Linked DNA regions of Homo sapiens. The protein of the gene in region 1 purifies or fractionates together with the protein of each later gene. This does not show direct contact. Each region holds a gene or a part of one and is shown in the gene's direction. Other genes may lie near its edges.

Region 1 (3,651 bases):
AGTTGTGCCTGCATTTCCTTCATGAGGGAGTTGCTGCTGCAGGCTGAAGAGGCAATGGAGGGCCCCTTAGAAGCAGATGCTAGTAGGGAAGGGGTTAATCCCAGCAACTCAGAATTAAGGAGTTCTCATCCATGGAAGGCCTTAGGTTGGATCAGTTCTAAGACGCTATCTTAGTGAATGTATACGGAGGTACTACTCCACAAGGGTGCCCATCACTGCATTATTCATGTTAGCGAAATACTAGAACAGTCAGCAGTTAGAAACTTATTAATCAGTTAAATTAAGAATGCATCCTTTAAAAAGATGCATATATGCATTTATTGATGTTCATTAAGAAAAGAACTTCATAATATAATTTCACAATAAAGGGGAAAAGGCAGACTGTAAGATCACATAAATTAGTTTTAATTTTTAAAATATTACATATATATATATAGAGAGAGAGAGAGAGAGAGAGAGGCAGACAGAAAGAGACAGGGTCTCACTCTGTCGTCCAGCCTGGAGTGCAGTGGTGAAATATTGGCTCACTGCAGCCTCTGCCTCTTGGGTTCAAGCAATTCTCATGCCTCAGCCTCCTGAGTAGTTTGGATTAGAGGCGCATGCCAACACACCTGGCTAATCTTCATATTTTTAGTAGAGATGTATTTCACCATGTTGGCCAGGCTACTCTTGAACTCCTGGCCTCAAGAGATCCGCCCACCTTAGCCTCCCAAAGTGCTGGATTACAGGCATGAGCCACCTCTCCCAGCTGAAATATTATATTATTTATATATATACATATAAATAGAAAATATCTGCTAAAGATATACATGAAAATATTATTCATTATTGACTTTGAGTGGTGGCGTTGTGGGTAATTTTTAATCTGCTTTAAACTTTTAAAAATATTTTATCAGCTTGTACAATGATTGGAGTTGAAAGCCCACGGATGCTGGGCAGGGAGTGATAAGAAGGGAAAAGAGGAAGCTGGCTTGGGGAGGAAGACAGGAACCCCAGCATGAGCACAGGCCAGCCATTCAGTGAGCAAATAAGCATTTCTGTGCTTCACACAGAAAATGTCGCCAGAAGCAGGGACCCCACCTTCTTCCTCTCTGTCTCCAGCCCCATCTTCAGCACCTGGGCCTACCAGCAATCCCAGATAGTGTCAGATTGCCCACTCCAGCAATCCCAGACACTGTCAGCTCCCCTGAAGTGACAACTTTCCACACCCTAGTCCTGCAACCTTGAGTGGAGAGCACCTTGTAGAAATGTAGTGGGGTTGAGCATGGCGCTGAAAAGAGCCTCTGATTATGGGCTCTGGAAACCACAGATCTCAGGACTCCAAACAGCACAGAACTCGAGTGTCCTGTTTTGAGTGTGAGCCCTACATGGGGGACCATGTTGGTGTTTTCACATTTGGGTCACATTTAGCATTGCGGCGGAAATAATGGCTACCAGTTAGGGGTCAAGTGCTTGCTTACATGATCTTATTTAAAGCGCCCAACAATACTGAGACCTAGTTGTTATTATCTCCTTGTTATATATAAGAAAACAGAGACCTAGTCAGAAGCAGCTTGTCCAAGGTCTCATTGCTTGACAGGAGCAAAGTCAGGATTCAAACTCAGAGGTCTTTTTGGCAAGGATGATGACCTTTTCTTTTTTTTCTAAACAGCTTCATTGAGATAATTCACCTATCATTCAATTTGTCCATACACTAAAACGGCCTTTAGTATATTCAGAGTTTTGCAACCATCACCACAATCATGTTACTGTGTTGCTGTTATAAGTAGAAAAAAAATATTTCCATTCTGAAGAGACGGGCAAACTTCGTGACCCAACCTCTAGACTATGTACTAACTCTGTTGCTGAATGTTGATAATTTCCATTTTCTTCCTTCTCAGTAACGCAGAATCTTGGGATGAGAAGAAAACTTTTAATTTAATTTCTGCATGCCTATATATATCGGGACATAAATGAAGTTTGACTATGGTGTTCCATGGGGAAAATATTGGTGTCTGGAAGTCAGAGTGGGAGGGAATCATTGAAAAATAAGCTAGTCCATCTATATTATGAATGGAGAGAAACTGAGAGGGAAAAGTGGCAAGTCTGGGGGGAACAAAGTAAAGAATGAGAAAAAAAAAAAACAGAAGACGAGGAAAAGGAAAAGTTCACACAGCTAGGAAGTGATGGGGCTAAGATGTAGACCTGAGCCATCTAATGCTAGGCCTAGGCATTTTCCTTTTGTGGTGCAATCTCTGTGCGGGAGAGGCAAGAGGTTTGTGATTATCGAATGCATGAATTACCACTAATAATGTCAGTGCCTAACGATCTGCCCAGGGCTTTGCCACATGTTGCTCCTTTTGTGACAGGTAGGGTATGTTTTTCTGATCCTTTTCTGATGCTCTGAGGAGGGCCAGCGTAGACCCTGTGAGCAACTGAGCAGCTCTGGGCTGGGAAAAGGCAGAATCAAGTCTCTGGTTCCCAGGCAGGTGCTCTTTTTCCCTAGAGCTTTGAGCTCCTTGGACACCCACACACTCACATATACCCACCTGGCCCACTGCTCCAGGAACTTGGTGGGGGCAGAGGTATCCAAGGTCCCCAGTCACATGTCAATGTGGTGATTCCTCCAGGATGGGGTTCCTGGCTGCTGTTAAAGCATTGCCTTTCTCAAACTCTGGAGGCACTTTCTTACCCATACTCCTAAACCCTGACTGCCATGTTTTAGGTGGTGCCCCAAGACCACCTACTGGACCTCTCAGAGCCTTGAACATTTTGTCTGTAAATGGGAAGAAAAACATCAGCCTGTCTGTTAGGGTTAAGTGATGTCATATATGTGAAAGCATTTTAAGGTATAAGACAGCATATAAACATTACATATGATACACTATTTAGTGGCATAATGTATCTGTGAATGTCATCAGAAATAATTTTTTTCTGAATGCTCTTTGTAAATAAAATAAAATAAAATAATTTCCAAAAGTTGCTAGAGGTCTTTGACATTGTTCCCTTGTCCCTAACTGACTCCATCCCCCACTGTATAAATAGATATGTTTATTAAAATCAGAAAATTGCCTAAATTGAACTGAATCTTTACTTTCTTTTTAGAGAGGGTCTCAAAACCAAAGATCTCCTGGACTTGTATCAACACAACCCTGACCTGTGAGGTAATGAATGGAACTGACCCCGAATTAAACCTGTATCAAGATGGGAAACATCTAAAACTTTCTCAGAGGGTCATCACACACAAGTGGACCACCAGCCTGAGTGCAAAATTCAAGTGCACAGCAGGGAACAAAGTCAGCAAGGAATCCAGTGTCGAGCCTGTCAGCTGTCCAGGTGCGTGGCGGGCATCACTTCACAAACACAGCCTGCCAGGCCCTCAGTAGGCAGAGGCATGCTGCTCCAGGTCACAGGTGCTCATGCTGGGAGGCAGCCCTGGCTCAGGATGAGGCATGAAAGCATATCTCTTCCTCCTGGAAACCTTCAAGGGAAGCATCAGGGGAGGTGGTGTTCTATGGTTTTCCATCCTGGGAGTCCTCCCACTGAGCACAATTTGACCACAAGAAATTTTAAAGATCCTCTTCTAGGAGAAAGAATTGCAAAACTGAAGAAGGAGGAGCTGTAGAGAGTATCTCATGCAAAGCCCCATTTTCCAGAGAGGGAAACTGACTT
Region 2 (3,651 bases), on another chromosome or scaffold:
AGGATCCTTAGAAATAGGTAACATGTAACATCATTATAAATCACAAATACCATCATGTGAATTAGTTATCAGGGAAATACAGCTAGCAAGTTTCCAAGGAAATGAGACACAGGCCCAGTAGTATTTGATGGGGAGGTTGGGGAGGACATGGAGAAGGGATAGTTATAGATCAGAGTCAGGAATGTCCTTTGGGAGTGTCATTGTGGGACTGCGGATAATTAAAGGACATGGAGAAGCCAGAGGCAGAAAAAAAAAGGTGCCACTAAGGGTATGCACCACAATCCAGGTCGGGTCCGAGCTCAATTACTATGCTAATATGGTCATGGATAGACACAGAGAAGAGAAAATTGTCATATGTGTGTCCATGGATTTCTCTACGCATCTCAGCTACAAGTTCTGCCAATGCTGCCATTTGTCACAAGGGCAGTGGGGTACATGACCCCGTGTCTCACTGAGTGGAAACCTGTCACCAAGAAGAAGACTCTAAAGGCATGTGTCCCCAGGAGTCTGCTCAGAGTGTTTATCCCACACTTAGGGCCAGGAGGCAGTTTTGGATATTTGGTTTGGAGGGTTGGAATAGGTTTAAAAAGCCAATGGATCTTATCTAGCAGTAGATTTCTGGAGCAATCTGGACAAAAATATTGTCTTCTTTCTTACATGAATGGGATGTTCTTCTCTCCCCACAGAAGAAGCGCACGCTGAAGGGGTCCATTGAGCTCTCCCGAATCAAATGTGTTGAGATTGTGAAAAGTGACATCAGCATCCCATGCCACTATAAATACCCGTTTCAGGTAAGTCCATCAGGTGGGTAGTTCCCCATTCCCTGGACTGTGGTTAAAATCTTCAGTCACAGCCGGGTGCAGTGGTTCAAGCCTGTAATCCTAGCACTTTGGGAGGTTGAGGCAGGCAGATCACGAGGTCAGGAGTTCAAGACCAGCCTGGCCAACATGAAACCCCATCTCTACTAAAAATACAAAAAATTAGCTGGGCGTACTGGCGGGCGCCTGTTATCCCAGCTACTCGGGAGGCTGAGACAGGAGAATTGTTTGAACCCAGGAGGCAGAGTTTTCAGTGAGCCAAGATCGTGCCATTCACTCCAGCCCAGGCAACAGAGTGAGACTCCGTCAAAAAAAAAAAAAAAAAATCCTCAGTCACTGTGAGAGAGGGTGGACACGGATGACTCTCTGCCTCTCTGCTCCAAGGTTAGGACTTAGACAAATCCCATTAGGAAACGTATGTGTTCCTTCCATCAGTGACATTTATTTGTTAATTCTTTCACTTATTGAACAAAAATTAAGCACAAAATCTTGAAAAGGTGGTTATTCCTTATACCCCTTTCCCTCATGTCTTCTCTTCCTCAAGGAAAGTCCTAATTAGTGAAGGAAGAAATAAAGCTGCTATCAGCGGCCTGAAACCTAATGTGCTTTAAGTGCAGTTTACTCATGATTTGAGGCAACATATTGCAATTGCTGGGTATGAATTGCTTGGAGATTCTGAGGCAAAAAGATTCAGATTTTATAATCTGAGGACTATCTGGAATCGCACTGTCTAGTACAGTAGCCACTAGCCACACATGGATGTTCACATTTAAATGTATTAAACGATATTAAAAATTCAGCTTCTTAGTCACATTGGGCACATTTCACATGTTCAATAGCAGGACATGGCTGGCAGCTACTGTACTGAAACAGCACTGGTTATAGAATGTTCCTATCACTGCAGAAATTTTTTTTTTTTTTTTGAGACAGAGTCTCACTCTGTCACCCAGGCTGGAGTGCAGTGGCGCAATCCCGGCTCACTGCAACCTCCACCTCCCTGGTTCAAGTGATTCTCCTGCCTCAGCCTACTGAATAGCTGGGACTACGGGCGTGTGCCAACACTCCCGGCTAATTTTTGTATTTTTAGTAGAGATGGGGTTTCACCATGTTGGTCAGACTAGTCTCAAACTCCTGACCTCGTGATCGACCCGCCTCGGCCTCCCAAAGTTCTACTGAACAGAGCTGGTGGAGGGTATCTTTAAAGTCCTTGTATATGAATCTTGGCACTTCTGGCTTCAAAGGCATGGATATCTCCTTGCACATCCCAGGGTACCATTCCTGCTTGCCAACCTGAGGGATGAACATATTTTTAACATGGCATAGAAAAGAACTTTTTTTCTACTAGAAAAGTGACCCTCATGAGTTGGAATTTTGAGGACTGAAAATAAAAGGAATAGCATGTATTTTTCAGTTGTTCAAAATCTCAATGATAATGAGTGCCTAAAAGAGAGGTGAAATATAAAGAAGACTGCAGTTTAGTTAACAGTATTGTACCAATGACAATCTCTTGGTTTTTTTTTTTTTTAATTTTTTTTTATTATACTTTAAGTTTTAGGGTACATGTGCACATTGTGCAGGTTAGTTACATATGTATACATGTGCCGTGCTGGTGCGCTGCACCCACTAACTCGTCATCTAGCATTGGGTATATCTCCCAATGCTATCCCTCCCCCCTCCCCCCACCCCACCACAGTCCCCAGAGTGTGATATTCCCCTTCCTGTGTCCATGTGATCTCATTGTTCAATTCCCACCTATGAGTGAGTTTTGAAAGATGTGTTGTGGTTACGTAAGATGTCATCAGTGGAGAAAAGTAGGTGAAAAGTACACAGGAACTCTGTACTATTTCTGGAACTTCTTGTGAGTCTTAAACTATTTCAAAATAAGAAGTTTTCAAAACTCTCATTGCACATTTGTCATATAATATCTTTCTCTTCCATGTGCCAGAAATATTTTTTTAATCACTAAAAACTTAAGATGAGAAATAAATGTGGTTTCTAGTCAAGAGGAGAACTTTCTCCTGCTGTCTTAGTTTAGTGATTGCTCTCTTGGGGCATGGAATCTGAGACGAGCAGCTGAAACTGCTTACCCTGTGTTTTTGTAGCACCCAAACACCTGGATAAAAAGGATACTGGCCCCCTAATTACCCAAATGTTTGCCTATATGACGATAAACACCCGAGACCCCACTCTCGGCTCAGTAGGTCTGCTGTCAGTCAACTATCTCCATGCACGCTGCTCACCTTGAACTCTGTGTGTGTGTCTCCAGGTGGTGCATGACAACTACCTCCTATATGTGTTTGCTCCAGATCGTGAGAGCCGGCAGCGCTGGGTGCTGGCCCTTAAAGAAGGTAATTAAACTCCTTTGCCATTGAATCACTGACACTCTTGATCCTATAGTAGGGTTGGGTTCCACAATAGAATAGAGTGTGGTGTGAGAGCAGCTGATGGCTGATTTCTCTTTTGGGGTTGGTGGAAGTTCCCAAGTTTTCATCCTGGGCCCAGGAAGCAATAACTGGTATCATTCAGGGATTGACCAAATCCAGCCTGCTGTCTGTTCTTGTCAGGCTCTGAGCAATATTTGTATATAACTCATTTCAAATAGTTTAATAAGTACCTACATAAGATGCTTGATTTTGTCTCATGGTCAGTAAAACCTAAAATATTTACTGTCTGGCCTTTTAAGAACAAATTTGCCAACTCCTCGTATAGTATGAAGAAGCAGAGCATAGGCCCTCATGTGAGATGACCTGGGTTTAAATCCCAGTCTGTCACTTGCTATGTACACTTGGGCGAGTTCCTTAATTGCCTGTGCTTCAGTTTCCCATCTGTTTAA
Region 3 (3,651 bases), on another chromosome or scaffold:
GCATCATCCTGGCCCTGGTGCTCCTGGTGGTGCTGCTGGTCGTGTGCGGCCCCCTTGCCTACAAGAAGCTAGTGAAGAAATGTAGGTGTCACGGCCCTGAGTGGCTCCGTTCCCACGTGCAGAGACTGGAGGGGCTGCACTAGAGTCCTCCGGAGGAGGGGTCATGCCTCCAGAGAGCTGGGCACGCAGGACACCTCTGCTTCACCACCCAGCCTTCCCCTCTCCTGCCCATTAGCCATTTTCTGCCCCAAGTAACAGAAACACAAAGTAAACAAAATTGCAATTGCTGATTTGTCCATCTCTGGAGCCCAGCTGAGACCCACTCCAGGTCAGAGAGAAGGTGTGGCCATTCCCAAGGCTGTGGCAGGCCCAGAGGGTGTTCAGTACAGCCTCTGATGGTAGGAGACACACATCCCAGGCCTAGCCCCACCACTTACCACTGCCCAAGATGCTGATTGGGACACTTCCTCTCTCTGACCCTCAGTTTCTTCATCTACCAAATGGGCAATCGCACACCTTGTGAACGCGGGGGGTTGTTCTCCTTGCCTTGCAGAACTTAAGAGGAAATTATTCAGACAAAGAAGTGAGAGGGGAGAGATTGGGAACAGAGGGCCCAGCAGGACAGTGTTAGGTCCTAGTGCCTGCCCAGGTCTAGTTCTAAACGCCTGTGGTCTTTTCTCCTGGGGAGCCGGGCACCTCTACACCATCCTCGGCCTGCTCCTTCGGCACAGGATGGCTGCAATTCCCTTCCCGAGCAAGTTAGGAAACTGAGGCCTACGAGAGACTCCAGGGGGCAGAGCCCAGCAGCCCTGCCCTCAGCTGCACCTGCCGCCACCATCTCCCTCCCAGGCCCAGCCCCATCCCCACCCCTGCCTGCCCCCACCCATACCTGCCCCCACCACTCTGATGTGCCTTTCTTGTCTCTTGCCCAGTCCGCCAGAAGAAGCAGCGCCAGTGGATTGGCCCAACGGGAATGAACCAAAACAGTAAGTGTCCCCGGAGGCAGGAGCCTCCCTCAGGCCCTGGACAGAGGCCATGGAGGCAGAGTCGAGGCTCTCTGCTGACCACAGACGGAGCCTGTGGCTGCTTGAAGCCTCTGATCTCCACGGTGCTTGTCTGACATGTGACTGTGGCCAACAGACGTCCCCACACCAGGGAGGGCGGAGGCTTCTTGATGGGCTGATGGCTGAGCGGTTTCTACCGCTGAAGCCTCAGAGTGTAGAAACATCTCATGGTATCCTTTCTGTCCCTCGCCCCATCTCTAGGGTCCCCAGCAGCCCTCACCTCCTCCAGCAGTATTCCCCAACACAGTAGCCAGTGGATGTTAACAGGCAGCACTCACAAGAGGCCTCCCTGATCAACAGATCTGGAAAACCATGAGTTAGGCACAGCTAAGCATAGCTATTTCAGGACTTATCAGAACCTTAATGGGCATTTTTGTATTGCCCATCTCCAAAGCAAGGATCCATTAAGAAGGGCTGTCCAAGTTATTTTCATCATGGAACAACTTACAGGGCCAGTATTAGGACATTTTGGTGCAGCCAGCCCAACACCATCCCTGGTCTTCATCCTCCCTCCTTCCAGCCACAGTCAGAGACACCCTAATGGATGGAGACATGGCGCTCTTCCTGCCTCCCATTCTGCCTTCTTCCCCCTTCCCAAGTCCACAGCCAAATCCTTCAAGAGGGCTCTGTTGAATTTGTTATTAAGAAAGGCTCTGGAAACTTTCTTAATAACATACAGGCCCTCAGCTCCTGGAGGGCAGGGAGCAGATCTGTCCCGTCACCTGTGCTCCAGTCTCCTGCTTGGTAAATGCTTGATGACCGACTCACGGAAGGCCCCACCCTGCCAGTCAGATTGCTGGGTTACCCAAACCTGCTCTAAAAGTCTGCTGCTGATCCTGCTAGCATGAACCTCCCAGGAAGAAAGGAGAGGGGGATGCATTGAAGGGGCTGTGGGTGCCTTTGTCCTCTCCCCGCTAACATCATGGGAATAGGAGATTAAAGTTCTGGGCACCTGCTGGGGAAGGAGACGGAGGACACAGCCACAAGTCTGACACTGTCTCCTACCATCTGCCCAGTGTCTTTCCATCGCAACCACACGGCAACCGTCCGATCCCATGCTGAGAACCCCACAGCCTCCCACGTGGATAACGAATACAGCCAACCTCCCAGGAACTCCCACCTGTCAGCTTATCCAGGTAAGCACCAGCGGGTGCTCCCAGGCACGCAGGCAGGGCTGCAGCAGGCCGCCAAGGCAGGTCACGTGATGCCCTTGAAGGTCGGGTGATGGCCCAAAGACAGAATGGAGACCCCAGGGTGCAAGGGGATCAAACATCGCAGGATGCAGCAGGGGTACGGAAGGGATATAGCCTTTGCAGGCCCCAGCTGTCCCGTTTGAGACCACAAACTACTCATCTGGAGAGAAGAATGCACTCAGAAAGCCATCAACCCCAGCCTTGCTGTGACCTAATGGGCCTGTTTCCCTTCAGGGCCTTGAGGGGCCTGGATGGTAAATGAGGCCCCTTGGATTCCTCCGGGCTAGAAGAGAGCCATTAAGTGGGCTGCAGGAGCGCTGTACTAAAGGCTCCCAGACTGGCACTACCAATTAAGCCCCAGGGAGCCTGGAGTTCAGCATCATTAGTGAACGTTTGGCTGATTTGATCAAAACAGATAAGGGGTTGTCACCGGCTCATAAAGCCCCTGTGATCTTCCAACCCACTGTGGGCAGCGGCTCTAGGATCCAAGGGGCTCTGTGGAGTCAAAAACCCTCTGCAAACAGCGTCCTTTCTTTCCCCAGCTCTGGAAGGGGCTCTGCATCGCTCCTCCATGCAGCCTGACAACTCCTCCGACAGTGACTATGATCTGCATGGGGCTCAGAGGCTGTAAAGGTGAGCCCGTCTCCAGCCTGACCCCAGCACCCCAGGGTCCCCCACAGTCCTGGGGGTGAGCAGCAGCCACTCAATGCCTCCCCTCAGTCCCACCCTGCCCATACATGAATAGGGGACCCCCAGCATCTTGATTCTTGTAAAGGGAAAGACAAACGTCAGCTGTTTAGGTTATACGAGCTGATTTGACAATTAGAGCAGAGCAATCATGAACTTTAACAATCAACTCTTAAACTCCATTCGGAAGGCCACACAGGCAGAGTCCCTAAGAGCTCCGTGATGGAGTCACACCCCTCTAGAGCTGCCAACCTGCCAGCGGGCAGAAGGAGCCCCTGGCTCAGGACAGCAGCCGTCCCCAAGATGGAGCCCAGAGCATGGGTCCTGTCCCCGACCTCCCTGCATCACCTCTGCGGTGTCTTCCTCTAACACGTTTCCTTCTCACCCCACAGAACTGGGATCCATGAGCAAAAAGCCGAGAGCCAGACCTGTTTGTCCTGAGAAAACTGTCCGCTCTTCACTTGAAATCATGTCCCTATTTCTACCCCGGCCAGAACATGGACAGAGGCCAGAAGCCTTCCGGACAGGCGCTGCTGCCCCGAGTGGCAGGCCAGCTCACACTCTGCTGCACAACAGCTCGGCCGCCCCTCCACTTGTGGAAGCTGTGGTGGGCAGAGCCCCAAAACAAGCAGCCTTCCAACTAGAGACTCGGGGGTGTCTGAAGGGGGCCCCCTTTCCCTGCCCGCTGGGGAGCGGCGTCTCAGTGA

Evidence for each region.
Region 2: the proteins of CD2 (region 1) and ITK purify together in Homo sapiens (affinity purification with western blotting, with the first as the bait; one study listed by BioGRID). This does not show direct contact.
Region 3: the proteins of CD2 (region 1) and CD5 purify together in Homo sapiens (affinity purification with western blotting, with the first as the bait; one study listed by BioGRID). This does not show direct contact.

Annotation. Positions count from the first base shown.
Region 1 is NC_000001.11:116,757,318-116,760,968, forward strand, and holds part of CD2 (T-cell surface antigen CD2 isoform 2 precursor), read left to right. Parts: intron 1-3,084; coding exon 3,085-3,315; intron 3,316-3,651. UniProt on the Homo sapiens protein: CD2 interacts with lymphocyte function-associated antigen CD58 (LFA-3) and CD48/BCM1 to mediate adhesion between T-cells and other cell types. CD2 is implicated in the triggering of T-cells, the cytoplasmic domain is implicated in the signaling function.
Region 2 is NC_000005.10:157,208,203-157,211,853, forward strand, and holds part of ITK (tyrosine-protein kinase ITK/TSK), read left to right. Parts: intron 1-686; coding exon 687-791; intron 792-3,084; coding exon 3,085-3,166; intron 3,167-3,651. UniProt on the Homo sapiens protein: Tyrosine kinase that plays an essential role in regulation of the adaptive immune response. Regulates the development, function and differentiation of conventional T-cells and nonconventional NKT-cells.
Region 3 is NC_000011.10:61,122,952-61,126,602, forward strand, and holds part of CD5 (T-cell surface glycoprotein CD5 isoform 1 precursor), read left to right. Parts: coding exon 1-81; intron 82-932; coding exon 933-986; intron 987-2,080; coding exon 2,081-2,200; intron 2,201-2,799; coding exon 2,800-2,888; 3' UTR 2,889-2,890; intron 2,891-3,336; 3' UTR 3,337-3,651. UniProt on the Homo sapiens protein: Lymphoid-specific receptor expressed by all T-cells and in a subset of B-cells known as B1a cells. Plays a role in the regulation of TCR and BCR signaling, thymocyte selection, T-cell effector differentiation and immune tolerance.